2 linked regions of the Homo sapiens genome follow. The protein of the gene in region 1 purifies or fractionates together with the protein of each later gene. This does not show direct contact. Each region holds a gene or a part of one and is shown in the gene's direction. Other genes may lie near its edges. The genes, in order: CSTF1 and CPSF3.

What was found.
Region 2: the proteins of CSTF1 (region 1) and CPSF3 purify together in Homo sapiens (affinity purification with mass spectrometry; 2 studies listed by BioGRID and IntAct, with this or other methods). This does not show direct contact.

Annotation. Positions count from the first base shown.
Region 1 is NC_000020.11:56,402,626-56,407,137, forward strand, and holds the end of CSTF1 (cleavage stimulation factor subunit 1), read left to right. Parts: intron 1-842; coding exon 843-1,102; 3' UTR 1,103-3,737; downstream 3,738-4,512. UniProt on the Homo sapiens protein: One of the multiple factors required for polyadenylation and 3'-end cleavage of mammalian pre-mRNAs. May be responsible for the interaction of CSTF with other factors to form a stable complex on the pre-mRNA.
Region 2 is NC_000002.12:9,426,471-9,433,764, forward strand, and holds part of CPSF3 (cleavage and polyadenylation specificity factor subunit 3), read left to right. Parts: intron 1-62; exon of another isoform or gene 63-90; coding exon of another isoform or gene 91-152; intron 153-2,294; coding exon 2,295-2,358; intron 2,359-3,452; coding exon 3,453-3,550; intron 3,551-4,281; coding exon 4,282-4,410; intron 4,411-6,040; coding exon 6,041-6,218; intron 6,219-7,294. UniProt on the Homo sapiens protein: Component of the cleavage and polyadenylation specificity factor (CPSF) complex that plays a key role in pre-mRNA 3'-end formation, recognizing the AAUAAA signal sequence and interacting with poly(A) polymerase and other factors to bring about cleavage and poly(A) addition.

The DNA of each region.
Region 1 (4,512 bases):
ATGTCAGGAAGTAAAAGAATTGTTAAACAGGCCGGGCATGGTGGCTCACACCTGTAATCCCAGCACTTTGGGAGGCCGAAGCAGGTGGATCACAAGGTCAGGAGATAAAGACCATCCTGGCCAACCTGGTGAAACCCTGTCTTTACTAAAAATACAAAAATTGGCTGGGTGTGGTGGTGTCCACCTGTAGTCCCAGCTACTTGGGAGGCTGAGGCGGGAGAATCACTCGAACCCAGGAGGCGGAGGTTGCAGTGAGCCGAGATCACGCCACTGCACTCCAGCCTGGCGACAGAGTGAGACTCTGTCTAAAAAAAAAAAAAAAAGATCACACACAAAAGAATTGTTAAATAAGTAATGGGGCTTCTAAACATGAGGCACTTTGCATCTAGTAAAAAACATGGAAAAATGTACTCAGCATAAAGTTGGTTAAAACTATAATAGAAAAATATAGTGGCAACAATTTTATATGTATTTTTAAAATGTGTTTTTTTATGCCTCAAAGTACATTAGGACAGTAACAGTATTGCTTCAGGTGATCTGGTGATCTCCTTTTTTTTTTTCCTGATGCAGTCTTGCTCTTGCTCTGTTGCCTGTTGCCCAGACTGGTCTTGAACTCCTGGGCTCAAGCAGCCCTCCTTCCTCAGCCTCCCAAAGTACTGGGATTACAGACGTGAGCCACTGTGCCTGGTTTGATTTTCTTTTTTGTACTTTTTTAGAGTTTCTGAAAGTGTACAAGGTGTATCACTGCAACAGGTTTAAAATGCTTTTACATTGAATGCTAGAACGTTCTGAGGGTCTAAGATGTGGACTTAGAAAGCTATCCCTCTTGCTCTCTGTGGCAGGCGCGGGTTTAAGTGGACGCCAGGTGCACCGGACACAGGCTGTGTTTAACCACACCGAGGACTATGTGTTGCTGCCCGACGAGAGGACGATCAGTCTTTGCTGCTGGGACTCGAGGACAGCCGAGCGGAGAAACCTGCTGTCGTTGGGGCACAACAATATTGTACGCTGCATAGTGCACTCCCCCACCAACCCCGGGTTCATGACGTGCAGCGATGACTTCAGAGCGCGGTTTTGGTACCGGAGATCGACCACTGACTGAGCCACCCTCTCCGTAGGGTTCTTTCTCGAGGACTCTACCCTCCTCCCCCACGTCCTGTCTCAGCTGCAGTCGTAAGTCCGTGCACCATCCTTGACGTTTTGCTGCCACCTCTGTCCACATTCTTCTTGGATTTGTATAAAAGAATCTTTTTTTACCTTGATGTAGAATCATGGTGGAAAAAGTTGGAAACACAGATCTGTGCAGTTCTACATTCACTGATTATTACAGTGTGATTTTCATCGGTTTTGTAAGTACAGGACTTGCCGTTTCTTTTGATCTCTTGATTGAAGGAGGATAGGGCATTAAAGTGCTTTTGACATGAGGAATTTTCATTTGGTTCTTCTGTCAACTTTCTTGCTTATTCTGCTGAACCCTCTGTGTATTTCCCTTCCAGGTATATTTGAACAGATAAGCAGGCATGCAGCTCTGAGACTCCTGAGTTTTATGCCATTATCAAAAGCATTTTCAAGAATCCCTCAATTCTATCCTGAAATGATGTTATTCTGATAATAAAGCTCAGATCTGCAACTTTATTGTTATATATTTTTCACTTCTGTAAAATTAATGGCCAGTTTTTCCTGACAATTTATAGGAACAGTATCTTTCAACATACTCCCTACATTATCCTTCAATATCTGCAATACTTGTCTTTAGTAACTGTATTTCTGGTAAGATTATGATTTCATGAGAAACAATTGAAAATATATCCGATCTAATTAAATTAGGTCAGCCTGCTATTGCTCTCAGGTGTTGCCTGTCTTCACGAATGATTAGTATCGATTGACCTCTTTCTTAGGTGGTTTTAAGTCTTCAGTTCTCGTCAGCATGAACTAACTTCTCATCATGGAGGCACATAGTAACTGCATTCTCAGAAGATTTATGCAGTTAACCAATTGATACAAGTTTTCTTTTTCTTGAATTTTTTTTTTTTTAATTGAGGCACAGTCTTGCTCTGTCACCCAGGTTGGAGTGCAGTGGCGTGATCTCAGCTCACTGCAAGCTCCGCCTCCTGGTTTCACACCATTTTCCTGCCTCAGCCTCCCAAGTAGCTGGGACTACAGGCACCCACCACCACGCCCGGCTAATTTTTTTTTTTTTTTTTTTTTTTTTTGTATTTTTAGTAGAGCCAGGGTTTCACCATGTTAGCCAGGATGGTCTCTATCTCCTGACCTCGTGATCCGCCTGCCTCAGCCTCCCAAAGTTTTGGGATTACAGGCGTGAGCCACCGCGCCCAGCCTTCCTGAAGCTTTTTAGAACATGACAGTACTTCTCTGGATTCAGCACTAGCAGAGTCAGAGAACTCTGAACTCCCCTTGTACAAACATAAACTTTGCTTTATATTTATCCCAAAAAACAAATACCTTATGATCTGCATAGGAGTACCTAGAAATATAATCTGGGATCATTTGATAAAAATAGTAAATAGATTGAAGTAAAAGTCATTGCTTTATATTATAGGAAGTTTTGTTTTGTTTTGTTTTGTTTGTTTTGTTTTTGAGACGGAGTTTCGCTCTTGTCCCCCAGGCTTTAGTGCAATGGCGCGATCTCGGCTCACCGCAGCCTCCGCCACCTGGGTTCAAACGATTCTCCTGCCTCAGGCTCCCGAGTAACTAGGATTACAGGCGTGCGCCACCATGCCCGGCTAATTTTGTATTTTTTTTAGTAGAGACGGGGTTTCTCCATGTTGGTCAGGCTGGTCTCGAACTCCCAACCTCAGGTAATCCGCCCGCCTCAGCCTCCCAAAGTGCTAGGATTACAGGCGTGAGCCACCACGCGCGGCCCCATCATACGAAGTTACTGAAGTTATTGCGTAAACATTCTGTTTTAGTCATCCTTGAGGATCGTTTTAACTCCTTGATCTGTAAAACTGTCTTAAGCATCTTAACATGTTACATCACAGGGTTTTAGCTCAGATTTCCAAAGAGCCATATTTTTTGATGCATATTTCCAGTTGAATTCCAGTGTGAATTTCCAGTTGTACTTTGCATTCTGATTCTTTGATATTTGAACTTGGCCATCTGTGGGTGCTACTCTCGTAAGACTAAAAGGCACCTACTAAATACGAACAAGGATAACCAGTTCTACCAAAAACATTACCAACCAAACCTCCCCTGTTCTTTTTTCAGACTTTCCTTTTGCTTTCAACCTCTTAAACTGTAAAGGAGAGATTTAATGTTTCCCTATTATTCTGCTTTGACTCACATACTAAAATGACCACATGGCACTCCATTGAATCTTTTCAGTTGTTCACGAATTAAAATAATGCCCATGTTTTACAGTTTTTCGAGTAGTCTCAGCAATGGATCTGTAGTTTCAGGACCTGTTTTTAAAAGATCAAGATACTTTTATGTGTTTCAGAAGTAGCTGTTTTTTCATTTTTTGTGGGTTTGTTTTTTTTGTGTTTGTTTGGTTGGTTGGTTTTTGGTTTTTTTGCTTTTTAAAGGTCACAGTGTTGTGAGCCTGGTGTAAATGCCAGGAATATTATATGGACTTAGTATCTGCATCTCGTTAATTGTACCACACAACACTCTGCCATTCAAATAATGAATATCTGGTCAGGATACGAACTTATACCCTCTGTGTGTTTTTTTTTTTTAAGATACGTGATTTCTGAAATAAACTTTATATACAATGATAAGCTAGTTTATTTTTTTTGGAACTTACTTTGAACATTTCCCACATTTGAACATCTGTTCTCAAACAGCAGTTATGACTTTGGTACTGTTCACCCTTTCTTTAGTGCTTTGTTCCAGAAGTCAGGTTTTTATAGCTGGATCACCTTTAGCTCTTTATCTTTGCTCCTCTGCTCTCTATGAATTTTTCTTTTTTTGAAACGAATTCTCACCCTGCCGCCCAGGCTGGAGTGCAATGGCGCGATCTCGGTTCACCGCAACCTCCGCCTCCCAGGTTCAAGCGATTCTCCTGCCTTAGCCCCCTGAGTAGCTGAGATTACAGGCGCGTGCCACCATGCCTGGCTAATTTTTTCTATCTTTAGGAGAGACAGGGTTTCGCCATGTTGGCCAGGCTGGTCTTGAACTCCTGACCTTCTGATCTGCCCACCTTGGCCTCCCAAAGTGCTGGGATTACAGACGTGAGCCACCGTGCCCGGCCGCTCTCTGTGAAGTTAAAGAACTTGAGTATAATTCAGTTTTTTGGCTTATTCAGAGAACGCTATCTTTGCTTACACTTTGGTTTTCCTTAGGAAGAGCAATGTGAGAGAGTCCAGTCTCAGCTCTGTTACTGACTTGGTAAGTAATAGGGCAAGTCATTTTTCTGGGATACAGCTTCCTTTTCTGCGATTAAAGGGCTTAATGAAAAAAATCTCCAGCATGCACTTCAACCTGTAAAGCTCTTTGTTTTCATGCCTGATGATACAAACAGACTTCAGGGAGGGAGGAAGCCATTGTTCC
Region 2 (7,294 bases), on another chromosome or scaffold:
AGTGTCACGTGTATGTATTAAAGGTCTAGAATTCAGAAGAACAATCTGGGTTACAAATACAGGCTTGGAAGTCCTTAGCATGTCAGAAAGATGAGAATGAAGATTGAGAAGTTGGCCAAGGAGCAAACCCTCGGAATATCAACATTTAAAGGGTAGGCAGAGGTGGCTGAATATGTGAAGGAAACAGGAAAGCCAGCAAGACAAGATGAGAGCATCAGGTCAGAGAAGCCAAGGGAGAGGTGCTTGAGGAAGGAGCAGGTACTCCTTAGGAGTGACAACGGCTGCCAAGAGAACAAGATAGGGACTGACACCTATAGTTCCAGCTACTTGGGAGGCTGAGGCGGGAGGATCACTTGAGCCCAGGAGTTGAAGGCCAGACTGGGCAACATAGGGGGACCTTGTCTCAAAAAAAAAAAAAAGACTGAAATGACTACTGAGCAGCAAGGACAGTTTCAGAAAAGTGATTGGTAAAAGCCAGAGTATAGCGAATTGAGGAGCGAGTAGAAGGTGAGGAAGTACAAGAGGGTCCACTGCCCTGGGAGGTGGTCTGGGGAAAGAATAAAGTGGGAACTAAAGGAGCTTAGAGTCAAGGGATTTTAATTTGGGGATGAACATGGCTGTAGTATGTTTAAATTTGGATTGGATGGTAAAGAGCAGACAGTGAGGAAAATGTCAATGACACAGCAGTGTTGAGTTCCTCAGAAGGAGGGAGGGAGTACGTAGAGTAGAATGGTGGAAAGTTTCATTGTGGAAAGAGAGGTCTATTCTATCTATAGAGGAGAAATAGAAGGAGACAGATGTGGGCAGGTTGGTACCCTGTTGGTACATGTATTCTTAATTATTGTACCAACATGAAGTTGAGGAAATTTACAAATGGACTGTTTATTTTTTTGATGCAGAAGATGGCCCATGCCTCAAGTGAAGAAGAGGATAGAAGGTTGGAAAATTTGGGAAAGGGAAGAAAGTTTGAAAATAGTTGATATGGAAATGAAATGGAGAAAACAGCCAGGCAACATTGAGGGCCAGTTAAAGTGGAAGGCCAGGGTATCCACAATAATTACAAATAAAAAATGTTTAAAAAGTGGAAGGCCAGGAATTTATGGCGGCTCTCATCCACAGTTGTTTGATCTTCTGTATCAACACCTGTTTGGAGGTAGGATCTCAGTTTGGGGATAGATCCATTGCATGTCCATCTGACTGAGTTCCTTGAGGTCAGGGTCCCTGTAAGGCATTTCCATGTCCTAGGCACTTAATCCAGTGCTTGGCAAATAGAAGCTGCTTAATGTTGAGTGAGTGAGTGGATTGTGAGCTAGAATGGTTGGGAAAAGGCATCAAAGAAGGTGAGGGATTTGAAAGATGAGGTTTAACTTAAAGTGTGCCTTGTGACCATTGCAAATTATGGCTGAAATTATTAAGAAGAAACAAAAATTATGTAAGTAGTTGGTATAAAATATGCTGAAATAACAGAAAGTAGAAGAAAAAGTGATTGAAATTCACAGTATGAATAAGTATTTTAAAAAAAAAAATTTTTTTTTTTTTTTTTTGAGGCAGAGTCTCGCTCTGTTGCCCAGGCTGGAGCGCAGTGGCGCGATCTCAGCTCACTGCAAGCTCCGCCTCCTGGGTTCACACCATTCTCCTGCCTCAGCCTCCCGAGTAGCTGGGACTACAGGTGTCCGCCACCACGCCTGGCTAATTTTTTGTATTTTTAGTAGAGACGGGGTTTCACCGTGTTAGCCAGGATGGGTCTCGATATCCTGATCTCGTGATCTGCCTGCCTCGGCCTCCCAAAGTGCTGGGATTACAGGCGTGAGCCACCGCACCCGGCCATTTAAATTTAAGCCATTTGGCAAATACACATTATGATCTTAAAGAAGATGACAGTGTTGAAATGCTTATGGCTTTCTACTTAAGTGCTAATTCTAGAAGTATTATTATATAATCTGCGTAACTGCTAGTTTACATTTTAAATACATTATAATTTAATCCTAAAATTCAGAAAATTGAATTTAAATCAAGCCCAAACCTTTGGGCTTCTTGGATCTGTACCGCCTTCTCTCTTAATTTTAAGAACTGCAAGATCCCTGGACTCCCAAGGATCAGTTTTCATCTGTTCTCATGTGGACACTGTTCTTCCCTGTCTTTGTGATTTTGTAGAACTCTCTTACGTCTCAGAATTTTTCAGTGAGGTGCTGTCATCAGATGGCATGTAGTGTACATTGTAAAAAAGTGTAAGTTTATTGGACTTGGTTTTGATTTTTTTTAATCCTTCTTTTTCTCCCCTTGAATATTTACAGTGGAGCTGGGCAAGAAGTAGGAAGATCATGTATTATTCTCGAGTTCAAAGGAAGAAAAATAATGGTAATTACTATTTTTGTACTCAGTTTAATAGTATGGCTCTGTCTGTATTGGGTGTTAGTCTTTTCTCATAGACTAGTTATCTTTTTAGCTCCCAGAAAAATGTTATAGTACATGTAATCTATGCTGTATAGTGTTAATGAGAAAAACTAATACACACTTCTACTTAGTAATTTAGTTGATTAAGAAGATATATTCTATGACTGTAAAATTGTCAGCTAGATCTGTTGAACTGTTACCTCTTCAAAGTCCCTCTTCCACTCCTGAAGGGTTGAGCCAGCCTAACTGCCCCACCCCCAGTGGAAGATCCCAAGGGCCCAAGCACTCTGAACACACTGAGAGCTCTAGCCGCCTCCAGCATGTGGGGATCAAGCCTTGGCCTAGAAGCTTGGATCCCCAGGTCCCACTGGGGCTGCCGGCCTTGGCCAAGTCACTTTGCTTCTCTAAGCCTGAAAGGTAGAGGGGTTAGAGGAGATAGTTTCTAAGGTACTCATTAGAAAGTCAGTTCTGTGTCTCAGATTCCTTTGATTCCTCTTTCTTCTCAACTCCTCCCAATCTGAAAAGAACATGTATAGGTCAGACATAGTCATCCTTTTAGTCATCTGTTTTGTTAATTTGGTAGTAACGCCATAAAAATAAGTAACTTTAATGACTGAGTCTTAAGAATTTGTTCCCTAATGCCTTAAAATATTTAAATTACCCTGATCAGGTAAGTTTCCCATTTCTAATTATTATCTTCTCACGAGAGTCGATCTGGTAGTAGTAAATCTATAAACTTTTAAAATTTTAATCTGATATCAAAGTTTTTGAAAAAGATTTAATTCGTTGTTAGAATGACGACCAAAAGTAGCTGGAAAGAAGCTGTTTTGTACTTTGCATCCTGTGACCCCTAAATGTGAGCTATATTTTAAATTTGTTGGGAAGTTAGAATTGTTAATGGCATATTTGCCACATTTAATAAGAATCATGTTCCAAGTGCTAGTGCCTGGAGTCCATCTTGAGTATATGGGTGATGGAACTAGAATTATTGCCTATTTGCCGAATGAATTTTAATAAAATGTGCAGGAGATTGTGATCTCTTTTCCTGTTTCTTTCAGCTCGACTGTGGGATCCACCCTGGCCTAGAAGGAATGGATGCTCTTCCTTATATTGATTTAATTGACCCAGCTGAGATTGATCTCCTATTAATTAGTCAGTAAGTTTTTCCCTTTATTAATGACACTTTTTCACGGACTTTTACTATCAAGATCATTCTTTACTAGATTTTGAGAGTTTGGTTTTTTAAAAGAGTGTTTTCTGCTAGGAAGCATATTGCAGACATCTGAGTCTAAACCAACACTCCGTAATGTCATCACAGGCTAGAGAAGTTTGCTATGAAAAACTTACCTACCTCTATGTATAAGTTCAGTGAGTATGTGAGAAGGAGATAGTACAGAACTTGAATCATTGTAAAACTTGAGACTAAGAAAGCCCTTTTCCAGGATATCTCCTTGAGGTCACTGTTTTATCACATTCTTCTATAAGAACGCCATTTCACCTTTATTGAAACTATTTTTAAATAGAGTTCATATAGAAAAATGTGACAAGACAGTGACCTCAGGGAGATATCCATGTTTCAACTTTATTCTGTTAAAATGTTTGCTGTAATTCTGGCTGCCAGGAGTAGGCTTGGGATATTCTTCTTCCTCCCTAATTCACTAATAAAGTTTTTTGCTGTTTAAAAACAATACTTTAAACATCTTTCCTCCATTTTAGAACTGTATGCATTACTTCTTCCTTCTACACATACCTACTCTTGGTTTTTCTGAAAGTATCAGCACATAGTTGTTTATATAAAACTTGTTTTGTACAGTAAGCAACAGTTTCATTACATGGTATCTGATGGATAATAATTTTAAGAATTAATGCAGCCTCTTTCTTTTTAAGTTTCCATTTGGATCACTGTGGAGCTCTGCCCTGGTTTCTACAGAAGACAAGTTTCAAAGGAAGAACATTTATGACTCATGCCACAAAAGCTATTTATAGATGGCTTCTTTCTGATTATGTCAAAGTTAGGTAAATTACTTTATTAGATTATACACGACTTTGGCTCTATATGGCATGTATGGTTCAAGATATGGACCATTTTGTGTTTTAAAATGAGGTGCTCCCTTTTCATGTATAAGGATATCAGTAATTTCATCATTCATTAACAAGGTCATTGAAACCTATTGTGTTTCTAGCACCTTCCTGACCTTGAAGGTTTTTTTGAGACAGGATCTTGCTCTGTCATCCAGGCTGGAGTGCAGTGGTGTGATCACAGCTCACTGCAGCCTCAGCCACCTGGGCTCAAGCAGTCCTTCCACCTCAGCCTCCTGAGCAGCTGAGACTACAGGTGTGTGCCACCACACCCAGCAGAGTTTTTTGTTTTTTGAAGAGATAGGGTCTTATGTTGCCCAGGCTAGTCTCAAACTCCTGGGCTCCAGTGATCCTCCTGCCTTGGCCTCCCAGAGTGCTGGGATTACAGGCATGAGCCACTGGCCTGGCCTTGAAGTCTTTATATAGCTTTTTGTGTCCTTTTAAAACTTCATTAGGCTGGATTGGAAGAGTTATGCTTAATTGTGGTAACACTCGTTAACACTTCAATAATGCTTACCACATACTAGGCCCAATCCTAAATTCCTAATGTATATTAACTTCACACAAAGATAAATAAATATACATATTTTTTTTTTCTTTTTTTTTTTCTTTTTTTTTTGAGACGGAGTCTTGTGCTGTTGACCAGGCTGGAGTGCAGTGGCGCTATCTTAGCTCACTGCAACCTCTGCTCCCGGGTTCAGGCAATTCTCATGTCTCAGCCTCCCCAGTAGCTAGGATTACAGGCACACAGTGCATACCACCACGCCTGGCTAATTTTTGTATTTTTAGTAGAGACGGGGTTTTACCATGTTGGCCAGCCTGGTCTTGAACTCCTGACCTCAGGTGATCTGTCTGTCTTGGCCTCCCAGAGTGCTGGGATTACAGGGTTGAGCCACCGCACCCAGCCGGGAGATAAATATATTTAATCTTCACACCAACTCATGATGTAGGTTCTATTATAAATTCCATTTTATAGATGATGAAACTGAGGCACAGCGAGGTTAGGTTATTTGCCTAAAATCGTCACAGTAAGAGACAGAGCAAGGATTTGAACCCAAACAATCTGGCTCCAGAGTCAGCGTCCTTAACCACTGTTCTCTCTTGCTTTTTTGTAAGTACATTAACATAATTTTCAGGAGAAAGGTTGTGCTAGACTTTGTAGAAAAATCTTTTCTCATCCTAATGTGAGAAATATCTGCCATGGTTCAATGTATGTGAGTGTGTTATATCTTTCAGGAGTGTTGGGGTGGGAAAAAAGTTTGAGAAGTACTATCCTAAAGAGTATTTTGTCTTAATTTATTGTATGTATTATTGAAAATTGAGAGTACTTTGAGCTCAGTGTCTTAATTTCCTGTGTGGTTTGTTTAAAATCAAGTTTTGTAGCTATACACACAATAGAGTAAAAAAAAAATACACAAAATATCTGAGAAATTTTAAATACATGATTCATACAGTATATTTTAAAGAAATATCTTCATGGAGATGTTATCCACAATTTCTTTGTGTTCAAAGGCTTTTTAAAAAATCTGACTCTTAATTGTTTTTGCTGGCATCTTTCAAAATTTAGTAACATATCAGCAGACGACATGCTGTATACCGAGACAGATTTGGAAGAAAGCATGGACAAAATTGAAACTATCAACTTTCATGAAGTTAAGGAAGTTGCGGGAATCAAGTTTTGGTGTTACCATGCAGGTCACGTCCTAGGAGCCGCCATGTTCATGATTGAGATCGCAGGCGTGAAGGTACCCTCTGGCTGTGGCGCTTTTCTCCCCAGAGAAATCAGTACAGAGCTTTGTGCCACCAAGTACTATTAAAAAAAAAAATTCCCTAAGACTTGCAAAGTGTCAGAACACGGAAACATAAGATAAAAATACAGTTAACGCTTGTTCCTTTTAAATATTGCAGTTCCTACCTCCATTACAATACTTTCTTTATCAAGACTGAGGAAAAAAAAATTTTTAAAGACTGAGAAAAGAGTAAAATAAACATCTCAAAAAGTGATTCCCTGACACCATAGGATTCCGTTTGCTTTAGAAAACTGGTTAGGGAAGAGGTGTCTTTGTGGCTGCATTCGTTTAAAATTAAAACACAATTTGATATTCATGTCCCCCTGATGTCTTAGAATTCACAGGTAAGCCCCTAAGCAGGGTGGACTGCAAGAGTGAAAGGGGTTAATTAGGAAAGATCTTTGGGGAAGCCTTGAACTTCTGACAACGTGGGTGGGCCGCTGGCTTTCCAGACTCCAGAGCAGCCGCTCTGAACTCAGGCTGCAAATAAGACTCACTTAGGGAGCTGCTGAAAATAACTGTTGAATCAAAATCTGGAGGCGCAGCTTGGCCTTTTCCTTTTCGAGTTTGCTAGGTGATTCTAACGTCAGCCAGAGAACCAATGCTCTAGTGTCACGTCCTAAATTTTTCACAGCTGCTTATACATTTGGAACTTTTAGACATTGAATTGTAAAGTATATCACTAAATCACTTATTCTTGCAGTTTGCTCCAGGGCACAAAAAATAAGTAGCACAAATGCAGATGTGAATTCTCTTGGAATTTGATGCAGACCCTCTTATGATTTTATCTCCGGTTTTAGACCATGTACCTCAGTGCACTCCTTTCCTTGTCTGCATGCCCTTTTTCTCTAAGAAGTTCAGAGCACTTCTCAAGTGGATTAATGTTATATAGGTTATCATTGTGAGATGATACTGGGAATAGATTATTCCCATTTACTAGAGGAAATAATTGAAGCACTGAACCGTTTACTGACTGAACTACACATTTTGAATTGGACACAAGCACTGCATGTAAATTTCATCAGTTTTAG